Regions from separate parts of the Homo sapiens genome. Here region 2 is linked to region 1. Evidence: fine-mapped expression QTL. A gene starts in region 1. The other region holds a variant in brackets. All regions are shown on one strand. Distances are between the middles of the regions.

Region 1 (8,428 bases):
GTCAGTTTGGGGTTTTCCATCGAGAGAGAAGTTGAACAACAAATGCCATTCCCTGTCCATTTTATTTTTTTCATCATCAGTGACTAGGCCACTGACTGCCAGGGATGTGCATTTCTTAGGGGTCAGAAGAACAGAGAGCAGCAGCAGCGCAACAGTGCCACAGGAAACATCACTACCCTTGCTAGAACAATTACTGTTAGGACACAGGCAGGGAGCCATTCCTAAATCTTCCTGGGGTGATGGGTGATGGTCTCCTTCCTTGCCACAAACAACATAAAGGATTGTTCCCATGACTGTGCTGGGGGCACACTTTCCTAACAGTGTCTCTATGGCTGTCCCAAGCAGCTAGTGATGGTCACAAGGCTAGACGCAGTGACCAAAGAGTTCTAATCTGAACATCAGTGAGTAGAACTCAAGCACCCACTGGTTAGGATGTTGTGTTGCTGCTGCCCCCAGGTGGGAGCCTCAGAGACCACGTGGCGGACACACAGGCCACACCTGATGGCACCTACCAAGTTCAAGTGTGGCAAAAAAGAGAGCTCTGCTAATAAACTGAGCAACTTCCATTCAACTCCTGGGATTCATTCTGATTGGAACAACCTGGTTAGCCCTTCCCCCAATCCCCACCACCCTCTGAAGCATGACAAGGTGATTTTGGGTGCCAATTGGCCAGACCTTGGCAAGTTTCCACCCCTAGAGTCAGGCAAGGAGCCTTGCTTTTTTTTCTTTTTCTTTTTCTTTTTTTCGAGACAGACTTTCGCTCTTGTTGCCTAGGTTGGAGTGCAGTGGCACGATCTCGGCTCACTGCAACCTCTGCCTCCTGGGTTTAAGCGATTCTTCTGCCTCAGCCTCCTGAGTAGCTGGGACTACAGGCGCGCACCACCATGCCCAGCCATTTTTTGTGTTTTTAGTAGAGATGGAGTTTCACCATGTTGGCCAGGCTGGTCTTGAACTCCTGACCTCATGATCCACCCGCCTCGGCCTCCCAAATCCCGCCTCGGTGACTGGGATTACAGGTGTGAGCCACCACGCCTGGCCAGGAGAGAAGCTTAGTTTTCCATAAGAAGCTGTAGCTTTTTTTTTTTTTTTTTGGAGACAGTTTCGCTCTTGTTGCCCAGGCTGGAGTACAATAGCGCAATCTCGGCTCACCACAACCCCTGCCTTCAGGGTTCAGGCAATTCTCCTGCCTCAGCCTCCGGAGTAGCTGGGATTACAGGCATGCGCCATCATGCCTGGCTAATTTTTATTTTTAGTAGAGATGGGGTTTCACCATGTTGGTCAGGCTGGTCTCGAACTTCTGACCTCAGGTGATCCACTTGCCCCGGCCTCCCAAAGTACTGGGATTACAGGCATGAGCCACCATGCCAGCTTTTTGTTTGTTTTTTGAGACGGAGTTTTGCTCTTGTCCCCTAAGCTGGAGTTCAATGGCACGATCTCAGCTCACTGCAACCTCCACCTCCCGGGTTCAAGTGATTCTCCTGCCTCAACCTCCCTAGTAGCTGAGATTATAGGCGCCTGCCACCATGCCTGGCTAATTTTTGTATTTTTAGTAGAGACGAGGTTTCACCATGTTGGCCAGGCTGATCTCAAACTCTTGACCTCAGGTGATCCACCCACCTCGGACTCCCAAAGTGCTGGGATTACAGGTGTGAGCCACCGCGCCCAGCCCACTCTAGCTATTTTTTATAGAAGAAAGAGATACTGGAGAGCCAAAGCAACAATTGTCCATTGTAGCCTTTTGGGGAGAGATTCCATGGTGAATGCCTAACTTTTGGCCCACAATATTAATGTCCAAGAGCTTTTACACTTCCACAACTCTTCTCCTGACTTTGTCAAAAGATGCAGTCTAGTTGGCAGTGAACTTTCTCTGGCTGGGATATGGCTCAAAGACTACCCCAGCATTGTCTCTTGCATTAAGGTATCATTTAGCCTGAGATGGCTAAGCTTGCAATCTCCAGACTCCACGCTGTCATAAACTTTCAGATCCTCAACCAGGAACTTACATGGAATGAGCTGGCCCTGGAGGTCAGCTGGAAGATGGCCAAATTCCTCTGAATCACCAGCTATTTTGAATCAAAGGCTCATCCAACAACAAAAGTGTATAAACCCATCTGCCTCCGCCTTCTTCCAGTCACCCCCAGTCTCACTGTCCAGACCTGTGGGATTAACACCGTATAGTACTTGCTGTTAACACTTACTATCCACTAACACCCGTGGAATGTGGACACTGCTAAGCTGGGAGATGATGCTTGTGCAATAGTTTGTATTACCCTTTTGGCAAAGGACCACTCCAAGAAAATGGTGTATTTCATCCCATCAGCATTCCCCCTGGCAAAGCTCTCCACCCTTAGTCATTCCCCTCTTGTCATTTCTACTGTGGCTATCAATGAGATCTTGTGCCTCCATTAGAATACTGAGCTAGCATTTGATATTTGACCTCACTCCAAGGTGTGTATTCTGGGTTTCTGTTGTTGATTTTCTTTTTAAAAAAATGAGTGCAATTCAAAGTTCTTAAAGTATATCTGTTTCCTGCTTCCAACAACTGACAGATAACAAAATGGAATATACAAAGACATTTTTAATTTATAATGTATATTAAACATTATTATACATATACAACTTACAAGGGTTGCTTCTGGCTGGATTCTCTGCCAATCGCCCGAACACTGAGGATTCTGCTAGTTGTTCTGCCCTGAGTTAATTATAGCTATAAAATTTCATCACCAGCAAGAAACCAGGCGACTTCCCCAGTACATCTTGAATTTATACATATATTTTGTACTAGATTTAGTACAAAATAAATCCAAAACATCTTGAATATGCCTCATAATGAAACAGACACACGTGAACCCACTCCCACGTGAGAAACTGAGGATGTGTCTATGTGCTCCTTCCCTGCCTCTCCCTCCCCCTCTTGTGTGCTACCCTCCCGGCTCCCTAAAGATCACCAATATCCTGATTCTTTTTTATTTTTTTTTCTCATGTCTTGCCTTCTCTGTACAGTATTTTACCATATATGTACGTTTCTCTAAACAACATTAGTTTTACTTGGTTTGAACTTTACAAAAGTGTTGTTAGACTTCCTTCTTTCACTGAACATCGTGTTTCTGAGATTCAGCCATTGATGCTGCTACCTGGTAGCTCTAGTTCATTTATGATCGCTGCTACATGGCTTCCTATTGTATTACTTTTCCACACACTACTTCCCTCACTACATTTCTTTTCTTTCTTTCTTTTATTTATTTGTTTATTTATTTTTTTGAGACGGAGTCTCGCTCTGTCGCTCAGGACGGAATGCAGTGGCGCCACATGGGCTTACTGCAACCTCCGCCTCCCGGGTTCAAGCGATTCTCCTGCCTCAGCCTCCTGAGTAGCCAGGACTAAGGCGGCCGCCACCACGCCCGGCTAATTTTTGTACTTTTAGTAACAACGGTGTTTCACCATGTTGGCCAGGCTGGTCTCGAACTCCTGACCTCAGGTGATCGGCCCGCCTCGGCTTCCCACAGTGGTGGGATTACAGGAGTGAGCCACTACGCCCGCCCCCCTCACTACATTTCGAAGGCAATTTTGGGGGCAAAGCCCTCAGCACAGTCGCTGGCAGAGTCAGCACACAACAAAATTTTGTAAAATTGAATGACACTGAGCCCGGACTGAATGTAACAACTTACACATGTTGCTTCTGGCTGGATTCTCTGCCCTTTGCCCGAACGCTGAGGATTCTGCTAGCTGTTCCGCCCTGAGTTAATTATAGCTATAAAATTTCGCGACCAGCAAGCAGAAACCGGGCGACTTCTCCAGACACCTAAGACTACGCTTCCCAGAAAGGATTGCGATACTCTCCTACTGTTTAGTTTCTTTTTCCTATCGTCAAATTTCCGGGTTATGTGGGCGGTGCCAAAATAATTATCCAATGAGCAACTTCGTAGGCTGAGCGGGCAGGAGAATTGCTCAATGAGCGACTCGGAAGAGGAGCCAATAAGCGGAGAGGTTGCTGGGGTAGCCGGCGTGGGCGGCGTCACTGAGCCGCGCCAGCTGAGCCAGGTAGGGCCCTACCCTCTTCTGTTGCTTTCTCCCTGTGGCTCGCGCCGTCCCCCGCCGCCCGTCGACCCCGCTTCCATGTCCCTGGCGGACACAGCTCCCAGGAACCTCCACGCCCATGGCCACTAGGCAGAGGGAATCCTCTATCACCTCCTGCTGTTCCACCTCGAGCTGCGACGCAGACGACGAGGGCGTGCGCGGCACCTGCGAAGATGCTTCCCTGTGCAAGAGGTGCCTGTCGGGCGCGGGGTTCGGGGCCGGCATCTGGGGCGCGGGCCTAGGTGGGAGGTGGGCCTGCATCTGAAGAATACGCTCAAGGCTGGCAGGGATGCAGCCCCCGCCTCGCACGACCCTCGCTTCCCACCTGTGAAGTGCACGGAGCAGGGCTTCATTTATTTAACGAATCGTTTCTGAGCTTTTGCTGTGAGCCAGGCAGGGGGCCAGCCTGGGTATCGTCGATGGGAGCAGGCCCCTGAGCCAGACAGACGAGGCCTTGGGCTTCTTGGAGCTAAACGCTGCTGGAAAGACAGACATGAAGCAAATAGTAGCTCCAGCCTCGATGGGTTACGAGGATGAGAGGTGTAGGTTCTCTCTCTTTTGTAGGTTGCATTCTTTAGGGGGTTGGTGTGATCCCTGTTGTGCACCTGAAACTCAGGATGACGAGGGGAAATAACCCACCCAGAGCCAAGTAATATCTCTTTGCAGAGCCAGTACCGCACTAAGTCTCCACTGTTAAGGGTGTGGTGGTGGGGATGGGGGCGTAGCCAGCAGAGGTACGTGTCAGAGAAAGAGAAAGCTTGAGGCTTGAATGTCCACCATTTATTCTTTCATTCAACAAAATTTTTTGAGACCTTACTTTGTGCCAGGCCTTTACTTTGCAGTGGTTAGTAGGAATTCGATGGTGGAAATACACCAAGAACAAGACAGACATGGTGTCAGACATACTGGAACTCACAGCTTTGTTGGAAAAGAGAGACAGGAAGCAAATAATTACCTATGAAATATATAATTATGATTTTTTTGTGTTGAGTGCTGACAAATACGGCAGTGCCATTAGAGTTTGTAATTTTGTCAGTGATGTTTAAGGTGAGAAGAGTTTGGGCGCGGTGGTTCACGCCTGTAATCCCAGCACTTTGGGAGGCCGAGGTGGGCAGATCACGAGGTCAGGAGTTCGAGACCATCCTGGCCAACATGGTGAAACCCCATCTCTACTAAAAATACAAATATTAGCTGGGTGTGGTGGCGGGCGCCTGTAATCCCAGCTACTCGGGAGGCTGAGGCCGGAGAATCATTTGAACCCGGGAGGCAGAGGTTGCAGTGAGCCAAGATCACGCTATTGCACTCCAACCTGGATGAGAGTGCGAGACTATGTCTCAAAAAAAAAAAAAAAAAAAAGTGAGAAGAAAAGGCTTGAAAAATAGGAAAGTTGTAGGAGAGTGTTCAGAGGAGTGTGAACTGTTAGAGGAACTCAAAAAATGCTTTAAAGGTGGGAGAAGGAGGCTGAGGCCACGTAGTGATTGTAGAGTGGGGAAAACCAGTGTGTTGGATTAAACCTTGCACTTTTTATAGGTTCTTGGGGACTAAACTTTCAGAGCATGGATTCTGGAGCTAGACTCTGTCAAACTGAGCGTTGCCACTTACTGGCAGTATAAAGTCGGGGAAATTACTAAACTTTTCTGTGGCTCAGTTTCCTGATCTGTAAAATGGGGAGTATAATAACGCATCATAGGTGGGTGTGGACAAAAATGATATTTAATATTAGTAGAGCACTTGGAGCAGTGTCTGGCATGTAGTCCATGTAAGTGGTGATTGATTAAATTAATAAATACACAAGTATTAAAGTCTTAGAGAGAGTCCCTTATGAAATTTGTGAATTTGAGTGGATTATACTCAGCTTTTTCTTCTGTGGCTTTCAGTTGCTATTGGCCACAGCTGTCTTGGCTCCTGGTAACTTCCACCTGCCGGGTTCAAGTGATTCTCCTGCCTCAACCTTCCAAGTAGCTGGGATCACAGGCACACACCACCATGCCCAGCTAATTTTTGCATTTTTAGTGGAGACAGGGCTTCACCACGTTGGCCAGGCTAGTTTCGAACTCCTGAACTCAAGTGATCCGCTCGCCTTGGTCTCCCAAAGTGCTGGGATTACAGGCATGAGCCACCCCACCCAGCCTAGTCTTTTCATTTTTAAAACAGTGATAATAAAGGTAACCTTTATGGGTGTCAGGATTAAATGAGATTATCGATGCAGAGGATCTGACACAAAGTGAAGCCCTCAGTAAATTATTATTGCTAGTTTTGACTTCCCTCCAGGCTGAATATTGTTTAGTTAAAGTTGCTGAATGTGCAGTAGCTATGAGTTAGGGTGGTTCCTGCTGCCCTGAGTGAGTTATGGCTATAAAATAAAAAGCCAGTCAGCCTTCTGGGTACCTGTAAATCTTTTACTTCTGTTTAGTTTGCTTCTTCCTTTGGTATAGAGTCCTTCTGCGGATAAGTAGGATGTTATCTGTCTCAGAGGATTGCTGTGCAGGTGAAATGTGGAGTGCTTGCAGCAGTGCTTGGCATACTGGAGGTGTTCAGAATTGGTAGTTAACAGTCATCACCACCCCCCTCATTGTCATCAAATCATTATCATCATTGTGATCCTGGACTTGTGGTATCAGAAGTTTTCTGGTTGGATATATTAGGTTTACACTAACTCCATTTGACTCAATAGGTATCAATTGAGCACTTTTCATGGTAGCCCACTCTCCTTCCCTTCTCTGCTCTCCTTATGATGTCCATCATGCTATGCCACTGAGTCTGTTCTCCCCTCTTTTGTTTACCTGTGACCCAACCATCCCACCAACCCCTCACTATGTCCTCTGCAGTTACCACCTGATAATCAACATCAGCTTCTATTTTGTTAGCCTCTCCTTAGCCATTCCCTCCCTCCCTTTGCCTTCACCCTGACCTTTCCTCAGGGATATCCTGTTCTTGAAGCCCTCTCCCGTGGCTCCTCCTCCTTCTCATGCCCTGTGTATCTCAGGATCAGGGATTTGAGCTTTGTGTCCTCCTGTGTGTCTCCCGCGTCTCATTCCATGGAGAGCCTTCCTGCCCAACTGGAGCCCTCCTGATTGCTGTTGTTCAGCTCTCCTGATCATTCACCTCATTCATGGAAGACTGGGGTGCCTGGCCCAGAGTGTCCTCTACCTCAGTTCATGACTTCACCTTAGGTGACCTCAGCATCCACATGGAGCCTATGCACGAGGCACTCACTTTCTTGAACACCTGGTCTGCAGTGATCACCTCTTCCTATCTGATTCTGTCACCCATTCCCACCGTGACACCCTGTGCTTTTATCCTGATGCTGCACTGCCTCACAGATGAGAGTGCAACACTCTCCAGCTCTGACCCCTTTTTTCCAAGTTGCTTGACCAGTTATTTTCTATTTCCCATGCTGTGCCCATTTCTTCTTAGCACCTCAGTGGTTCTCTCTGTCTTTTAGATGTTCCCTCTGCTGTTACCTCTTAATTGATTACTTAGAGTTCATCCTTCATCCCTCGGTAATTCTGTTGACAGTGCATTTATCTTCCTTGCCCTTTGGTCTTAGTAGACCCAAAATGCTGGTTTAACCAAACTATCCATTTTTGCCTTGAATACAGGTGCTAGAAATCACACAGTAGGGTGGCTTGGTGCCGCTACGATCATGTCAGCCAACCTCAACTGTGCCCTTAACAGAACCTGACTATCCTAGTTTGTTTCTCAGATCAACTCACTCTCCCTTTCTCCGGATACTTAATTCAGACATTTTCCCCTTTCTTCAGACTTCTGATTTACCCCACTCCTTTTTCATTCTCAAGATAATATCAGCTATTGCTCAACATGGAAAATGGGAACCCTTAGAATGAAACTCCCTTAACCTCCCCCAGAAACTTTGTTTGTTTTGTTTTGAGAGGGAGTTTGGCTGTTGTTGCCCAGGCTGGAGTGCAGTGGCGCGATGTTGGTTCACTGCAACCTCTCCCTCCCGGGTTCAAGCAATTCTCCCACTTCAGCCTCCCGAGTAGCTGGGACTACAGGTGCCTGCCACCACACCCGGCTAATTTTTGTATTTTTAGTAGAGAAGGGGTTTCACCATGTTGGTCAGGCTGGTCTCGAATGCCTGACCTCAGGTGATCCACCTGCCTCAGCCCCTCAAAGTGCTGGGATTACAGGCATGAGCCACCACGCCCAGCCTTCCCCCAAGAAATGTAATCATCCTTTTTCACTTTTACAGTTGTGAATTCCTCCAATAAAGACCACCAGAAACACACCTGTAGTTAAACAAGCTGGGTTTATTACTTGTTGCAAGGAGGGAAGACTCACACTATGAGGAGCTGTGGGGCACATCAGTAAGAGAGTGTTAGACCTTTAG
Region 2 (8,000 bases), 59 kb after region 1:
TCACTTTGGAGCAAGCCTGGGAATGTGCCAGTTTTCAAAACGTTGTCCATAGCTGTCCCTAGACTGGTTCTGCTCCCACCCACCACCCTCACCTGGTGAATAATGAACATTTAAGTTAATTCAGTGGTTTCCTAACAAACGCAAAATGACCAGCACCCTCACAAACCATGTATTAATTGCTCACATGCTTTACATTGTTTGCTTTTCCTTTTTTTTGGTCTTTTTTTTTTTTAGAGACAGGGTCTCGTTCTGTCGCCCAGGCTGGAGTACAGTGGTGCCGTCATAGCTCACTGCAGTCTTGAGCTCCCAGGTTCAAGTGATCCTCCCACCTTAGTCTCCCATTAGTTAGGACTGTAGGTGCACACCACCACTCTTGACTTTATTTTTTTGGTAGAGACAGGGTCTTGCTATGTTGTCCAGGCTGGTCTCAAACTCCTGGCCTCAAGCAGTTCTCCAACCCCAGTCTCCCAAAGCCCTGGGACTGCAGGCATCAGCCACCATGCTCAGCTTGTTGCCTAATTAGTAGTTTAAGATGACAAAACTACATGGATGATAATAATTTCAATAATAATTCTAAAGCAGTGGTAGCAAATTCTTAGATTTTGCTTACTATATAGCAGGGACTATTCTATGAATTTTACATATATTAACTTATTTATTTATTTATTTATGTTTTGAGATGGAGTCTTACTCTGTCACCCAGGCTGGAGTGCAGTGGCACGATCTTGGCTCATTGCAACCTCCACCTCCCAGGTTCAAGAGATTCTCCTGCCTCAGCCTCCTGAGTAACTGGGATTACAGGCGTGTGCCACTATTCCTAGCTAATTTTGTATTTTTAATAGAGACAGGGTTTCATGTTGGCCAGGCTGGTCTCAAACTCCTGACCTCAAGTGATCCGCCCACCTCGGCCTCCCAAAGTGCTGGGATTATAGGCGTGAGCTACCGCACCCAGCCTTTTTTTTTTGAGACAGAGTCTCGCTCTGTCATCCAGGCTGGAGTGCAGTTGCGCAATCTCAGCTCACTGCAGCCTCTGCCTCCTGGGTTCAAGTGATTCTCCCGCCTCAGCCTCCTGAGTAGCTGGGATAACAGGCACGTGCCACTGCGCCTGGCTGATTTTTGTATTTTTAGTGGGGATGGAGTTTCACCATGTTGGCCAGGCTGGTATTGAATTCCTGGCCTCAAGTGATCCACCTGCCTCAGCCTCCCAAAGTGCTGAGATTACAGACATGGCCACCATGCCTGGCCTAAAGTGAGTTTTTGAAAAAGCAATAGTGTATATACTACAATGGTGTACACTAATATTGTTTCCTGGCCTTTTTCATATATAATTTTGGGTTTTTTAGATTAGTTTTTGTAATTTAAAAAGTAATACCATATGTAGAGTACAAAAATTAAAAATAGAACAGGGTAGACAAGGAAAAGTAAATCTCTCTCCTGCCCCAGACTTTGGTCCTCTAATCTGGGAAGCAAGGCTGCCACATTCCAGAATTTTTCTATGTACATAGAGAGATTCTTTTTTTCCTTGAAGACAGATGGGCTCATACTATCCATATTCCTCTGTACTTCACTTTTCAAGAGTTTACCCTAGAGGTCATTTCATGTCTATATCTGTCTTCTCTGTTTTCATGGCTATATATAATTTCATTATACAAACATGCCAGGAGTTATTTCCAGATTCTTCCTATTATACCTAATGCTGTGATAAACATTCTTGCATCTTAGCATACATGTGGGAGTGTGTCTGTAGGATAGATTGCTTTTGGTGGAATTGGTGGATCACAAGTTGAGCATTTAAAATGGTTGTATCCTGCCCAGTTTCCCTTCCAGGGCTACCCAAGTTTATGCTCCCGCCAGCACCGTGCTGGTGCCCGCCCCTCAGTCCGTTTCCTATGCTGGGTGTGCGTCATCAAGCGTCAGCCTCGGCTGCTTAAAAATAGGATGAATGATGTTTTATTTTGCATATTTAGGAAACCCTTAGAGTAATATCTTACCTTCTCTTTCCCTCCTAGGTGAACATGGGTGATCGGTTTGGGCAGATCATGATTGAAAACCTGCGGAGACGCCAGTGTGACCTGGCGGGAGTGGAGACCTGCAAGTCATTAGAGTCACAGGTCAGAGAGCAGGGACTGGGATATCCATTTGGACCCTTAGTCAACCAAGATATATAAAGGTCTTTCTTTGCAGATGTGATCATGGAGAAGCCCTGTTCAGTGCCTGTCAGCAGCACAGGCTGCTGAGCCTCCATGTGGGCCGCTAGTTCATGATGCTGGGAAGACCAAGTCCTGCTTCACCATCACATTTCCTACACCCTATTATTTTGACTTTGTATTACGCAAATTTTCAAACAAACATAAAGGTAGAGGGAATGGTGAAATAAACACACACGTCTCATCACCTAACTTCAGTATTTCTTATATTATCAGTGTTATTTCCTATATTCCCCCACAATTTTTTTGTAGATGTTGGAATATTTTCAGGCAAATCCCAGACAGCACATGATTTCACCCCTAAATACACATGTGAATCACCTTCCAATAAGGACTTTCTTCTCCCAGGATGATGATAATACCATTTCACAGATCATACAAGTTGACAACTCCTTCATAGCATTTAATGCCCAGTTCATGTTCAGTTTCCCCAGTTGTTTAAAAAACCTTTTTTTTATAGTTGATGTGTTTGAATCAGGATTTAAACATTGTCCACACTTTGCAGATGATTGATATGTCCCTTAAACCTCTTTGACTCTATGTTAATGCCCCCTCCCTTTAAAAAAGTCATCTATTTTTTCTCATAACACCTCCCACCCCGCCCCCATATAAGTAGGTTCATTTTTTTGGGCGGGCGCGGTGGCTCACACCTATAATCCCAGCACTTTGGGATGCTGAGGCGGGCGGATCACCTGAGTTCAGGAGTTCGACACTAGCCTGGCCAACATGGTGAAACCCCATCTCTACTAAAAATACAAAAATTAGCCGGGTGTGGTGGTGCACACCTGTAATCCCAGCTACTTGGGAGACTGAGGCAGGAGATTTGCTTGAACCTGGGAGATGGAGGTTGCAGTGAGCCAAAATCAAACTACTGTACTCCAGCCTGGGCAACAGAGTGAGCCTCCGTCTCAAAAAAAAATTAAATAAATAAATAGGTTCATTTTTACATATCTTTTGTCACATAACAATTAGAGTGCTTTAAAAAACTGTCACTCATAGAAAAGTTCTTCCTTTATTTCTCTTTGGAAGTACTTTAGTGAACTTCCCCCCATTATAACAATGCTTGTTCAATATGGAAAGTTGGAAAGTTAAAAAAAGGTGTTAGGGTCTAGGATGGGCTTTTGAGAAAGGAGTCGTCTCAGAGGAGGTCTGGTGTGCTTAAGAGCATTTCAGTACCAAGCACACTGGCTCACACCTCTCATCCCAGCACCTTGGGTGGCAGAGCGGGGAGGATCGCTTGAGCCCGGTGGGTCAAGGCTGCAGTGAGCTGTGATCACACCACTGCACTTCAGCCTGGGCAACAGAATGAGACCTTGTCTCTTTAAAACAAAACAGTGTCTTAGATTTGTAAGCCGGTGCCTGGTAGTTCTCTAGTTCTCCATTTCTCTTCGTTGCACATTT[T/C]AGAAAGAACGGCTCCTGTCGAATGGGTGGGAAACAGCATCGGCCGTCGACATGATGGAGTTGTACAACAGGTTACCTCGAGCTGAAGTGAGCAGGTATGGGGTTGGTGAGCGTCAGCTTGATGGGCATTCATTGTGAACTCAAGGCATGATTGCCTGTATTCTTTCATGCAGAAAAACAGAACAATATGTGGAGATTTCATTAAAAAACAAAAAACAAACAAACAAATAAAAAACAAGGCCAGGCACGGTGGCTCACACCTGTAATCCCAGCACTTTGGGAGGCATAGGCGGGCAGATCACTTGAGGTCAGGTCAGGAGTTCGAGACCGGCCTGGCCAACATGGTGAAACCTTGTCTCTACTAAAAATGCAAAAATTAGCCAGGTAGGGTGGTGCACATTTATAATGCCAACTACTTGGGAGGCTGAGCCGGGAGAATCACTTAAACCTGGGGCGGGGGCAGAGGTTGCAGTGAGCTGAGATCGTGCCGCTTCACTCCAGCCTGGGCAAAAGAGCAAAACTCTTGTCTCCAAAAATAAATAAAAATACAAAAATTAGCCGGGTGTGGTGGCACACATCTGTAATCCCAGCTACTAGGGAGGCTGAAGCAGGAGAATTACTTGAATCCAAGAGGCGGAGGTTGCAGTGAGCTGAGATGTGCAATTGTATCCAGCCTGTGCGACAGAGCAAGACTGCTTCTCAAAAAAACAAACAAACAAACAAACAAAAAAAAACCCCAAAAAACAAGACCCTAACTAGACCTATTTTGAAACAAGTTAAACACTGATAGCAGCTTGAAAGTAACTCATTAGCTATTAGCTGAGATAGGGCTTATGCCCAAACTGATTATTTTAGTGAAAACAAGCAATGACACCTGGAAAACTCCCAGAGCAACCTTGGCAGTGGAAATTTTACATAATCCCTGCTTTGGAGAGGGAGGAAAACGACGTTGTTCAAGGACGTATAAGGGGCTGGCGGGTTTTTAAATGGACTTTTCTCCCCATTATAAAGGAAATCTATGCTTCTTGTTCTAAAAAGTTCCTCAAGCATTCTAAAGTGCATGAAGTATAAAGTAGTTGTCCATTCTGTAGTCACACCTGGGAGGTAGCAGTTCTTAACATATTGGGGAATATTCTTTTCCTACATAGATAGATAAATATTTATTGATACATAGATTTCTATTTTTTGAATCTGTGGATTCATACTACACATACTGGTCTGTAAACCACCATCCTTTTTGAAAACAATAGATTGTATTTGCCTTTACATATCAAAATATTGAGGGTTGCCATATCCCATTTAAGGGTACATAGGGCCAGGTGCGGTGGCTCACACCTGTAATCCCAGCACTTTGGGAGCCCAAGGCAGGTGGATCACCTGAGGTTAGGAGTTCGATACCAGCCTGGCCAACATGGTGAAACCCTGTCTCTACTAAAAATACAAAAAATTAGCTGGGCATGGTGGCGGGCGCCTGTAATCCCAGTTACTTGGGAGGCTGAGGCAGAAGAATTGCTTGAACCTGGGAGGCGGAGGTTGCAGTGAGCCGAGGTAGCACCATTTGTACTCTGGCCTGGGCAACAAGAGCGAAACTCTGTCTCAAAAAAAAAAAAAATAGGGTACATAGTATTTATATTGATTTACGCAGATACAGTATATTGATGATAATTTTTAAGTAATTAAAAATGTCTGTAGCTGGGCATTTAGTTGCGGTGTCTTGTTTATTCATCATGTTTTCATTTGCCTGTTATAAACAACACTGGAGAGAACATCACCAACGTGCATCTGTGTACAGCGCTAGTGCGCACTTCAGCTCTTTTTTTTGTAATCACTCTGTGCTTCCTGATTCATGCTTCCTTCTTGCCTTTGGAGACCTAAGATCAATAGCCTTTGGTCTCTTACAAGATCATGAGAAGAATTTTGGCTTTGCTTTTCCATATAACTTATTAACATTTAGGCATATCACTGTTTTTCCCAAATATGTACATGAATAATTGGCAATGAAAGCCTAGAGGGTTTGAGAAAGTGCTGTCTCCACGTGATCAGGTCAATGCTTCCTGGATTCTTCCAGAAGCATCCTTCCCCACAGGCTGGTTTTCATTTGCTACATGTCAAGACGACTGTTTTGAACATCCCTGATCTGGCCCCTGAAATGGGGATGCTCTGGCACTGCTTCTAGATGCCCAGAAAGGAGCCTCTGACTAGCATCAACCACAAGGAAAGTCTCTTGCCTCCAGGCAGTCATTTGTCTCATGTTTCCAGGACCTTCTGTAGATAGCAGCGTGTAACCCTCACGGGGGAGGCGGGTAAGGAGATTGGAAGGCCTTTGTCTATGCCAGGTCGAACAGCCTTTCCAGCTCTGTGAATGCCACGTAGTTTGTATCTGCTTTTGCCGGAAACTGTAGAGTATAATAGGAAGTCTAAGGCGAGCCTGTTCATTGAACAAATGCTGAGTTGAGTGTCTGCTGTGTGCCCGGCACTTTTCTAAGCACCAGAGATACAGCAATGATCAAAACAGGACAAAAGACATTCCTGCCCTTGGGAGTGCTCATTCTAGTGAACAGCTTAATAATTAGTAGTGTCTCCTGATAGCTGTTCTTGGTAATAACCATCCTGGAGCCTTCAGTATGGTACTGGATTTTTCTAGAACTTGGTATCAGATCTGCTTTGGATGTCTCCTGGTAGAATGACTTGGGAAACAACCACATTACTTTATGTGTAGGCATTCTTACTTCAGATTTGGTCCTGAAGCCTGCATACCAAGACGGGAATGAACTCACAAATACAGAAACATGCACAGACACACACGTGTTCACACCTGGGTGTACGTGCACACATATAACAGACAAGGCCTGGGCAACTGGCAGGATTCATATGTTAGCAGTGGCTATTGTGAATAGTAGGAATATGGATCCTGTTTCTTTTTTTATTTTATTCTGTATACTTTTTGAAAATGCCGGACTTTTCCTCCATAGTGTGTACCTATTTTGACAGAAACTTTTTTTTTGTTTTTTTTTGATAGAGATGGAGTCTTGCTATGTTGCCTAGGCTGGTCTCAAACTCTGGGCCTCAAGTGATTCTCCCACCTTGGCCTCCCAAAGCTCTGGCATTAGAGGCGTGAGCCACTGCTCCTGGCAAACAGAAACTTTTTTAAAACGCTATTTCCATATGTTTGTGCATGTTTCTCTGTGTGTGTATATAGTTATTTATTTTTATTTTTTTGAGACCGAGTCTCGCTCTGTCACCAAGGCTGGAGTACAGTGGCGCGATCTCTGCTTACTGCAACCTCCGCCTTCCAGGTTCAAGCAATTCTCCTGCCTCAGCCTCCCAAATAGCTGTGACTACAGGTGGGCACCACCATGCCAGGCTAATTTTTGTATTTTTAATAGAGATGGGGTTTCACCATGTTGGCCAGGCTGGTCTCGAACTCCTGACCTCAGGAGATCCACCCACCATGGCCTCCCAAAGTGCTGGGATTACAGGCGTGAGGCACTTCACCCAACCTGTGTATGTATGTTTAAAAGTTTACATTTAAAAGGCTTTTTGGGAAAAGTCATACATGCATATAATTTTTTACAAAACCAAAATGAAGTAGTATAGAGTAAAAACAACCCTCCTCACTACTGGTCTACTACCTTCTCTCTTAAGAGACAACTACCATTTCTAGTTTCTTCTGTATTTTCCAAAAGTCTGTACATATACAGACAAATTTGTCTCACTTTTTCTTTACATAGAGAGTGGTGTAATATGCACATTACTTGCTTTTTAAATTACGCAACTTGCTTTTTAAATTCCATGATATATATGTCTTGGAGGTTATTGCATATTAATACGTATGGACCTACCCCATTTTTAAAAATGGCTGCATAGTGTCCTGTTTTGACAGTATGAATCTGCTTCAATTTACTCTGCCTGTCTCCTCCAGTTGCCACTAGTTTTTCTTACTGAAGTTTAACAGCTCTTTATATAATAAGGAACTCAGCCCTTTGCCACTTGAATTGCAAATATATGTTTCTAGTTTGGCATTTGTATTTTGACTTTGTTTATGGTATTTTTTCTTCTTTTCAGTGAAAAGACATTAAAATGGAGCCACACCATAATTACTATTTTATAGCCGCCTTCTTTCCACTTAATCTATCATAAACATTTTTTCATATCCGTAGCTATGGGCCATGATCTTCATTTTCAATGCAGACACTTGCATCGTTCTATTTTAATTCTTTCCACAGGATAGAATCACTTGAATTCCTGGATGAAATGGAGCTGCTGGAGCAGCTCATGCGGCATTACTGCCTTTGCTGGGCAACCAAAGGAGGAAATGAGCTTGGTGCGTGATTGTACTTTTCTTGCCTTGACCTGGAAATAGTGAACTTTTCTTTTTCCTATTCTTTCCCT

Evidence for each region. PIP is the estimated chance that this variant, and not a neighbour inherited with it, causes the effect.
Region 2: its variant is fine-mapped to the expression of LCMT1 in whole blood (TOPMed, PIP above 0.99).

What each region holds. Positions count from the first base shown.
Region 1 is chr16:25,107,728-25,116,155 of GRCh38, forward strand. LCMT1 (leucine carboxyl methyltransferase 1) reads left to right here and starts at 4,015. Exons shown (of 11, transcript NM_016309.3): 1 at 4,015-4,269. The coding sequence starts at 4,157. LCMT1-AS1 (LCMT1 antisense RNA 1) reads right to left here and starts at 3,828. Exons shown (of 3, transcript NR_120306.1): 1 at 3,669-3,828. RefSeq lists enhancers at 3,438-3,965, 3,743-4,072, 4,163-4,322.
Region 2 is chr16:25,167,103-25,175,102 of GRCh38, forward strand. It overlaps LCMT1 (leucine carboxyl methyltransferase 1), which reads left to right. Exons shown (of 11, transcript NM_016309.3): 8 at 2,010-2,111; 9 at 3,612-3,703; 10 at 7,835-7,932. Among named protein-coding and RNA genes, the nearest start is that of LCMT1-AS2, 22 kb to the left of the region's middle. The variant T/C (reference allele first, on the strand shown) is at 3,609.